Linked DNA regions of Homo sapiens. The protein of the gene in region 3 purifies or fractionates together with the protein of the main gene of each other region. This does not show direct contact. Each region holds a gene or a part of one and is shown on either strand. Other genes may lie near its edges. The genes, in order: TBC1D23, SPAG9 and FAM174A.

Region 1 (3,113 bases), on a different chromosome or scaffold from region 3:
ATATACATATGCATGTATATGTACATTTTTGTCAAACCTTTCAAAAGAAGTCTACAAATGTGACACTTCATCCCTAAATGCTTCAGCATAAACTTCCCAAGTATATGAGCATTCTCCTGCACAACTTCAATGCCATTACCCCACCTAAAAATTTTTGTAAATTAACATCATTTAACATACAGATCATACCCCAAATTTTCAGTGTCCCCAAAGTATCTTTTGTAGTGTGTTTTTTCTTTGGTGATCCATGATCCAGTTCATGGTTTACACATTGCATTGTCTGTTATGTGTCTTTAGTCTCACCCTGTGTACAGCAGAACTCATCCCCCCACCCCCTCGCTTCCCTTTTCTCTTCATGATGAATGAATCCTTTGAGTCCAGGTCAATCATCCTACAGAATGTTCCACATTCTGCACTTGTCTGATAACTGTCGTATTGTATTACTGTACATAAAAAATGTGAGAGTATTATATTAAAAAGAAGCTGAGATACAGGGGTTGGGTGAGTGTTAATAATACTATGCTCATTTTGCCTTCAGGATCCAGTTACAGAATGTTTACAAAATATGTAGGGAAACCCAACAATTGCCTAGTGATCTTGGATATTAGATATAGGATATGGTGCATTGAATGAGAATAGTTTATGAATATAGGTAATAGCGTTAAAAAATCTGAAACGTAATATACTCCATTTCAATAAAAAATATATTATTGTAGTGATTTCTATGTTGTATGGAACTTTTTATTATATTTATTATATTTTCAATCATTGCAGGATTATCTGTTAATAAAATATTAATTTTGCATACAATTAAAAGGTGTTAATGTGTAGCTTACTTGTTTATAGATTAACCTCTGTTTATATCTTTTAACTCAATTTTATTTAGAGTTGAACATTTCTAATAATTGAGATGGTTGAAACAACACCTGTTTTGAATTAAATTTACTTAAAAATTCTTTTTCTTTTAATGCTTTTTTTGTCTCAAGTCATCTGTTGGTTACTGCAACACATATGTACTGTTTAAGGGAGATTGTTTCACGGAAAGGATTGGCTTATATACAGTCTCGACAAGCGCTGAATTCTGTAGTTAAAATTACATCCAAAAAAAAACATCCTGAACTCATTACCTTCAAGTATGGAAATAGCAGTGCTTCAGGAATAGAAATCTTGGCAATCGAAAGGTAAGATTTTCCTTAAGATAATATTATCTGAATTCAGATATTATCTGAATTACTGTAGTTCACTATAAAGAGTTTGTTTCTTTATTTTGGGGAATGGATGGTGGAATAGGATAGCTGAACCACTTTTAGTGTTTCTTATCTCTTTCTCCGGAGTCCTTAGTCATGTGTGGTTTAGCCATTAGCACATGATTTGAGTAAGTGCCATAGCTAATTTCATAAAGTTTCTGACCCAAGGATCCTTATTGTTAATCTGTACCAGTGCTGCACTAATTGCTGGCTTGCAGAGAAATAAGAAACTTGTTTTAGAATATGTTGATATTTTTATTTTCCTTCATCGAAAAATTCTTGTTTTGACAAACTGTCAGTGAACTAAGCAGTGTGCTGGGTGATATAGGTAATTTACAGCCTGGTACAAGCCCCCCTTTGTCTCATTGTGGGTCACTAACAGTTCACAGACTGGCCCAAGAGCTGTGGACCACACTGATATTGATACTAAACCATTTTTTAATTATAGATAAAAATATGAAGCCCAGAGGGGTGGAATGACTTCCCAGATCCTAACACTTAGTTTGTGACAGAACCAAATATAGCCTTCCTGACTCCTGATTTGTGGTTTATTATACCTTGCATCAGTTCAAGTTGTTCCCCCACTGGGATTTAGGATTACACTTATTATTTACAGGAGTGCTTGGATAAATAGTAAGCTTAAGGTTATATCGCAGCACTTTTAAATAATCAACTTCAGTTGGAAGAGGAAATTATTCAGCTTCTTTCATCTTGTACTGACAATTAGGTAGCAAACATCATGAATCTATACTGTTTTATGTAATTTGTTAAAAGAAAATAATACCTGATTTGTAAAAAAAAAAAAAATCACTTCATTGCTTTATGTAAGAATAAATATTTACATAGTGATATTTTCAATTAATAATATAAAGAATATGTCATTCTAATTCTCTGTTAACACATTGATGTGTATCTTCTCAGATTTTTTTTAATGCATATGTTATTTCTCTACTAAAAACTAGATAAATGTGATATAGGCTTGTTTTTGTGTTCTGATTTTTTAAGAAAATAGTATAGTGTGAATATACTTACATTTTAATAAATATAAATTTTTTAAAATTAATTAATTAATTTTTTTGAGACGGAGTCTCTGTCACTCAGGCTAGAGTGCAGTGTTGCAATCACGGCTCACTGTAAGCTCCGCCTCCCAGGTTCACACCATTCTCCCTGCCTCAGCCTACCGAGTAGCTGGGACTAGAGGCGCCCGCCACCATGCCCAGCTAATTTTTTTATTTTTAGTAGAGATGGGGTTTCACCGTGTTAGCCAGGATGGTCTCCATCTCCTGACCTCGTGATCCACCCACCTTGGCCTCCCAAAGTGCTGAGATTACAGGAGTGAGCCACCGTGCCCGGCCCAATAAATATAAATTCTTAGCTTTTTAATGGTAGATATTCTGTTATAAGGATTTCTCAGGAGATTGATTTAACAAGCCTCATGTTGATTGGCATTTACATTGTTTTCATGTGTTTCACTATTAATCTTCTAGTGGGCCTTTAAAAACATGTATGTTTACATAGTTGTCCAATTAGTCTTCTCAGGATAAATTCCTGCAAGTAGATTCAATGGGTGAGAGGTATACACATTTTAATATCTACTTATAAATTAATCCTAACCAAAGGAGATTTGAATTATGACTCTCTCATGTATAGTAAAAGTTGGGAATTGTGTTTTAAAGGCTTTCCCACAAATTTTGCTAAATAAATTGAAGTTTATTATATATGGATCAACATCTTTTTTTTTTTAATTCAGAGTTTTGGAAGATAGTCTTAATAGTGGAAGATAAAGTAACTAGATTCTCTCTCTCCCTTTCTTCATTGATATTTATGGTTCTCTATTCTGCCTCGCATATAACACTCATAGATGAT
Region 2 (3,500 bases), on a different chromosome or scaffold from region 3:
CCACCTCAGCCTCCCAAAGTGTCTGGATTACAGGTGTAAGCCACCATGCCAGGTCTTTTTTTTTTTTTTTTTTTTTTTTTTTTTAAAACACAGGGTCTTACTCCCATTGCCCAGGTGGGTGTGTAGTGGTGCAATCGTAGCTCACTGCAGTCTTGACCTCCCCGACTCAAGTTATCCTCCCGCCTCATTTTTTGATTTTTTGTGGAATGAGGTCTCACTATATTGCCCAGACTGGTCTCAAACTTCTGGGCTCAAGTGATCGTCCCACCTTGGCCTCTGAAAGTGCTGGGATTATGAGTGTGAACCTCCATGGCCGGCCTATTTCTAAAGCTTTTCCATCACCTCACACAGAAACTCTATGTTTTTATGAATGTGCCTATTCTAGATATCTCATATAAGCGGAATCATATAATATTTGTCCTTTTGTGTCCGACTTATTTCCTTTGGCATAGTGTTTCCAAGGTTCATCTGTGTTATAACATGTGTCAGAACTTCTACCTAGAGGATAATGTATTGTACTCTTAAAAATTTGTTAAGAGGGCTGGGCATCCCAATACTTCGGGAGGCCAAGGCAGGCAGATCACTTGAGCCCAGGAGTTCCAGACCAGCCTGGGCAACATGGTGAAACCCTGCCTACAAAAAGTACAAACAACTTAGCCAGGTGTGGTAGTGTGCGCCTGTGGTCCCAGCTACTTGGGAGGCTGAGCTGGGAGGATCACTTGAGCCCGGAAGGTCATGGCTGCAATGAGTACAATGAGTTGTGACTGCACCACTGCAATCCAGCCTGGGCAACAGAGTGAGGCCCTGTCTCAAAAAAACAAAAACAAAAATGTGTTAAGAGGGTAGATCTCAGGCTGGGTTCAGTGGCTCATGCCTGTAATCCCAGTACTTCGGGAGGACGAAGCGGGTGGATCACCTGAGGTCAGGAGTTCAAGACTAATCTGACTGCCCGGGGTGGTGGGTCACACCTGTAATCTCAGCACTTTGGGAGACCGAGGCGGGCAGATCACGAGGTCTAGGAGTTCGAGACCAACCTGGCCAATATGGTGACACCCCATTTCTACCAAAAATACAAAAATTAGCCGGGTGTAGTGGCTCGTGCCTGTAGTCCCAGCTACTTGGGAGGCTAAGGCAAAAGAATCACTTGAACCCAGGAGGTAGAGGTTGCAGTAAGCCGAGACGGTGCCACTGCACTCCAGTGTGAGTGACAGAGTAAGACTCCATCTCAAAAAAAAAAAAAAAAAAAGACTAGCCTGACCAACATGGTAAAACCCCGTCTCTAGTAAAAATGCAAACAATTAGCCGGGCGTGGTGGCAGGTGCCTGTAATTCCAGCTACTCGGGAGGCTGAGGCAGGAGAATCACTTGAACCTGGAAGGTGGAGGTTGCAGTGAGCCGAGATCATGCCATTGCACTCCAGCCTGGGTGACAGAGTAAGACTCTGTCTCAAAAAAAAAAAAAAAAAAAAAGTAGAACTCATATTAAGTATTCCACAATAAAATATAAAAAAGAACTTCATTCCTTTTTATGGCTGAATAATATTCCAACATATGGATATATCACATACACTTCTTTAATTTTTAAACTAATGTTTTAACATCACATAATGTTTAATCCAAAACTTTAGAAGACCTTTCCTTATTAATTAATCCAAACAGTCCTCTGGCTCCCAGTTATTTTCTCATATTCCCATTGTTTTATTTTCTTCACAGTATTTTTCACTACCTGAAAATATCTTCTTTATTCAATGGTTTCCAGTTTGTTTTTTAATCTTCCCTAACTAGAACATAAGCTTCATGACAGCAAGGTGCAGAACTGCATCTTCAGCTGCTACATCAGTGCCCAGCAGGTAGGTGGATGGAGGGGAGGGCAGAGAAACGCATGACTCACTCTTACCTGGCACACTTGCAATGCACAGAACATGAGAGTTGCAAACAGTGAAACTGTCTAGGATGTTGCCAGGTTGAACAGCATCAATAATAAGAACTTTTGTAGCCGAATGAGTGCTGGTACAGATCCAAACTAGACTGGATAATTCTTCTTGATTTTTTAACTCCTTCTGCTGTTCCTGTATAGGCAAAGGAGGAAAAATGTTTAAAACAATATGTATGTACAAATATTCATAAGGTGGTGCTGTTACAGTAAAAGGCAATACTATTTCAAATTTATTTCCAGATTATTTGGAAGGGTAAAAATACAACCACTGATGTGGTTTGGCTGCGTCCCTACCCAAAACTCAACTTGAATTGTATCTCCCCGAATTCCCACATGTTGTGAGAGGGACCCAGGGGGAGGTAATTTAATCATGGGGGCCAGTCTTTCCCATGCTATTCTCGTGATAGTGAATAAGTCTCACGAGATCTGATGGGTTTATTAGGGGTTTACACTTTTGCTTCTTCCTCATTTTCTCTTGCTGCCACCATGTAAGAAGTGCCTTTCATCTCCTGTCATGATTCTGAGGCCTCCCCAGAGGTTACCTATGTAAGCCCAATTAAACCTCTTTTTTCCTTCCCAGTCTCGGGTATGTGTTTATCAGCAGTGTGAATATAGACTAATACAACCACCTATCAATATTAATTAGTAGATGAAAAACTAGCAGTTAGGCTGGCACAGTGGCTCACGTCTGTAATCCCAGCACTTTGGGAGGCTGAGGTGGGAGGACTGCTTGAGGCCAGAAGTGTGAGACTAGCCTGGTCAACACAGTGAAACCCTCGTCTCTACAAAAAATAAAATTAGCCAGGTGTGGTGGTGTGGGTGTGTAGTCCCAGCTACTTGGGTGGCTGAAGTGGACAGATCACTTGAGTCCAGGAGGTTAACACTGCAGTGAGCCATGATCATGCCACTGCACTCCAGCCTATGTGATAGAGTGAGACTCTGTCTCTAAACAGCAACACAAAACTAACAGGTAAAGCAGAACAATGATAAAATGTTCCATTAGCTTGATCACTGTAGTGATTACATACGTGTACACATGTGTCAAAACTCTGACCTATACCCATTTCGAGTGCACACTTTATTGCATGTAAATTATACCTCAATATTTTAAAATTGATTTTAAAAGGGTGCTGAGGGACAGTAAGCCAGGGCATAGTAATCCCAATTAGAAGCTGGACCCAGAGGCAAATTTTGGATGAAAGAGTTAAACTCATAGTCTCATAAACCAGGTCAAATGTTAGTACACACACTTACCTTAAGTTCCTGATCTAACTTATCTAAACTACTCTGAGAGGCACTTCGCTGTTTACTGCCTTCTGTATCCAAACCAGCAACATCCTTGTAAAATACACTTGCTCCAACAACAGAACCACCATCTCTGGTCTTCCCACCAGATAAATTGACTCCAACAGCACACCACAGCTTCTCAGGTGAAAAAGAAAACAATATTAAGTCTAGAAATGTTTAGCATTTTCATGTTTTCTTAAAATAACTAATGGTTGTAAATACAGGTCTTATAACCTAATATTATAAAATGAACAATAACCTCACCATAGAAGTAATACT
Region 3 (3,740 bases):
CTGTAGCACTCAGTGCACTGGTTCTTACTTTGACTTCTGAGACATCTCTTCTGATTTTCTTCTTACCTCCTTGAGTATTTCTTGCCTAGCTTCTTCATGAATTTCTTATTCCATGAACTCTTCTTCCTAATTAGGACTCTTCTACAAGCTAATGTCTGGAGAGCAGGGCCTCTGTCTTACTCATCTTTGGTCCCTAAAGGCCCAATCTGATTCCTAGAATACAACGAGATGCATTGAATTTTTGTGGAAGAGAATGACTTTCACCTCCCAACTGACAGTGTTTTCTGGGCCCTGCTTTCACTGTCCATGTTCCCTGGGTGATCCATCCAAAATTCATTTCCTTAATGGCCACCTCTAAGCTGTTAATTACTTTCTGAGTTACAGACATGTATAGCCAGCCAACTTCTTACGGGATAGATGATTCAGACTTGTTTTCAAGTTTAAGCTTGAAACAGTATTTTTATCCCTGGACAAATCTTGCTGTACTCTCTTTATAAGGAGAATAACACCATCATCTACACAGTTTCTCAAACTAGAAACCTAAGTCATCCCATGTCTCTCTTTTGCTTACCATTCACATACAGTCATCCAATTTCAATTGCTAAATATTTCTTGACTATATTGCTGCTTTATGAGCTCAATTGACCTTACATTAGTTTAGGTTCACATCACTAGATTATTGTGCTATTGTTTCTAACTTTTCTCCACTTCACCTGTCTCTCTTTCAATTTACCTTCAACACTGAACAGATGGTGTTCCCTCTGAGATGTAAATCTATCATACTATGTGTGTGCTTATAATCCTTTATTGCTACACTGTCCAATATGGTAGCCAGTAGGTACAGGTGGCTATTTAAAAACTTATGTTACCTGGGCACAGTGGCTTACGTTTGTAATCCCAGCACTTTGGGAGGCCAAGGTGGGAGGATCTCTTGAGTCCAGGAGTTTGAGACCAGCTTGGGCAATATAGTGAGATCCTGCTTATTATATTTATATATATATATGTGTGTGTGTGTGTGTGTATAATATTCACACACATGTGTAGGGGGTATATGTGTGTGTGTATATATATGTGTGTGTGTAATATATATGTATATACACATACTGGGTATAGCAGTGCAGGCCTGTAAGTTCCAGCTGTTTGGGAGGCTGAAGTGGGAGGATCACTCAAACCTAGGATATTAAGACTGCAGTGTGTGATGATCACACTACTGCACTCCACCTTTCATGACAGAGCAAGACCTTGTCTCAAACAAAGTTAATGAAAAATAAAATGTAAAATTCCAGTCCATTAGATATACTAGCTGCATTTCTTTTATTTATTTAGAGACAAGGTCTGGCTCAGCTCACTGCAACCTCTGCCTCCCGGGCTCAAGCCATCCTCCCACCTCAGCCTCCCAAGTAGGTGGGACTACAGGCGCACGCCACCACACCCAGCTATTTATTGTATTTTTTATAGAAATTTGGTTTTGCCATGTTGCCTAAGCTGGTCTCGAACTCTTGAGCTCAAGTGATCTGCCTGCCTTGGCCTCCTAAAGTGCTGGGATTACAGGTGTGAGCCACTTCACCCGCCAACTAGCCACATTTTGAGGGCTAAATAATCACATGTTGTTAGTGGCAACTGTATTGGACAGAACAATGCAGAATATGTCCATCACTGCAGAAAGTTCTATTGGGTAGCACAATTCTATGGCATTTCATGGGATCAATGTTCATACTCTTTAGTATTTAATTAGCTCCTTAATCAGATTTTTTGGTGTTTTTGACATGGAGTCTCCCTCTGTCACCCAGGCTGGAGGGGAGTGGCACAGTCTTAGCTCACTGCAACCTCCACCTCATGGATTCAGACGATTCTCCTGCCTCAGCCTCCCCGAGTGGCTGGGACTACCGGCCATCATTTTTTATTTTATCTTGTCTTCCAGTCTCTAGTGAACTATATTTTTATGCAAGTACATTTTTCAAGGATGGAATTCTTTGCATTCTTTCTTTATTCTCTTGTTTAACTCCTGGTTGTCTTTGAAGATGAAATGGAACATGTACTCTACTGGGAAATCTCTGTGATTCCAGACCATTTTGAGAATACCTGTGTTATGACATTATTTCCAGGGGACTATAATAGGTGGTTCTGTTTCTGTCTTCTTTTCTACACTGTTTGCTTTTTATACCTTATTTAGAAAATAGTAGATTTTCACGTTTTCTGAATTAATATCAAAAGGAAATAAGAAATAATGTATCAGGCTGGGCATGGTGGCTTATGCCTGTAATCCCAGCATTTTGGGATTCTGAGGCAGGCAAACTGCTTGAATCCAGGGGTTGAGACCAGCCTGGGCAATATAGTGAGACTTCATCCCTACTAAAATGAAAAAAAGAAAAAATTAGCTAGTTGTGGTGACCTGTGGCCCCAGCTACTCAAGAAACTGAAGTGAATCACTGGAGTCCAGGAAGTCAAGGTCGTACCCCTGCATTTGTACCCCTGCATCCCGGAAACAGTTGAGGCCAAGGTCATACCCCTGCATTTGTACCCCTGCATTTGTACTCCTGCATCCTCAAACAGATGAGATCCTGGAGAGAGAGAGAGAGAGAGAGAGAGATCGAGAGACAGAGAGAGAAGGAGAGGAGAGAGAGGGGGAAAAGAGGAGAAAGAAAGATAAAGGAAAAGAATAAAAAAGAAATAATGTATGTGAAATCAAAACATGTAAATGAAGATTAAAAATGTGAGGTAGCTGTGTGAGAGTGGTGTTAACATCAATCCTGCAATAATGTAGTCATTTTAACTCATTTCAATTCCATACTGGAGCCTCATGATATATGCTTGTGCAGAGAAGTCAGTTTTTTTAACAGGTGTATATTTGCATGTATTTACCCAAGATAATGTGCAGATTATTCACCAGTGTATATCTAACATGACTGCAGTCCTCAGGGTATTAGAGTACAACCAGAAAATGCATTCCTCTGTAATTGATAGAGGTTGAATGTGGGACAAAATGGAGAAACTAGATTGAGATGCTTCTGGTTAGTTATTGCAAAGTTTTTCTGAAAACAAAATCAATAGCATTTGAACATTACTATCAACTGGTAGCAATGCTCAGGTGGTATCTACCAATACACTCTACCAGTGTTTCTGGACCCATTGCTACAGCAAGCGTCTATTCTGACTAGATGGTCCTTATGCCCTGCCAGTTGTTAAATAGCTAAATATCTTGAGTATCACCTCTACTCCTACACTTCAAAGTTCCTGAGTTCTTTTGTCATGATCTCCAGTGCCCATTGTAGTATTTCTCTTCTATATTATTGCATTTGATTCTAATTTTATCTTTGGTGAAGACTACATTTAAAAAATTACTTAGGTTTGATCTTTTCTAAAATATGAGAAATATGGTAAAATGTTGAAATTGGGTTGAAAGATATGTTGGTAATTTGCATTGTTCAGTATGATATAAAACATATCTAGAGAAATACTTAAATCATAAATTGAGAATCTTATAGTAATTGAAGTTACTTTCTTAAGAAATCAGGTTTTCCTTGGCGTTTTTGGATAGATTTTTATTGCTATATTCTTTAATAATCCTTTTTTTTTCTGGAAGAAGAAAGTGGTATAGAGTTGAAAATTCATAGAACATGAAGATATTGACTGTTGTGAGATTTTGGTTGGCATGTAATGTCAATTCTTTCTGTGTAGCCAAACTGTATTATGTTTTTGTAATGTAAAAGGGGTAATATATACTATGGTTTGACTTTAGT

The links.
Region 1: the proteins of FAM174A (region 3) and TBC1D23 purify together in Homo sapiens (co-immunoprecipitation; 2 studies listed by BioGRID and IntAct, with this or other methods). This does not show direct contact.
Region 2: the proteins of FAM174A (region 3) and SPAG9 purify together in Homo sapiens (co-immunoprecipitation; 3 studies listed by BioGRID and IntAct, with this or other methods). This does not show direct contact.

Annotation. Positions count from the first base shown.
Region 1 is NC_000003.12:100,319,791-100,322,903, forward strand, and holds part of TBC1D23 (TBC1 domain family member 23), read left to right. Parts: intron 1-986; coding exon 987-1,181; intron 1,182-3,113. UniProt on the Homo sapiens protein: Putative Rab GTPase-activating protein which plays a role in vesicular trafficking. Involved in endosome-to-Golgi trafficking.
Region 2 is NC_000017.11:50,991,869-50,995,368, forward strand, and holds part of SPAG9 (C-Jun-amino-terminal kinase-interacting protein 4), read right to left. Parts: intron 3,357-3,500; coding exon 3,189-3,356; intron 2,068-3,188; coding exon 1,896-2,067; intron 1-1,895. UniProt on the Homo sapiens protein: The JNK-interacting protein (JIP) group of scaffold proteins selectively mediates JNK signaling by aggregating specific components of the MAPK cascade to form a functional JNK signaling module.
Region 3 is NC_000005.10:100,541,845-100,545,584, forward strand, and holds part of FAM174A (membrane protein FAM174A precursor), read left to right. Parts: intron 1-3,740.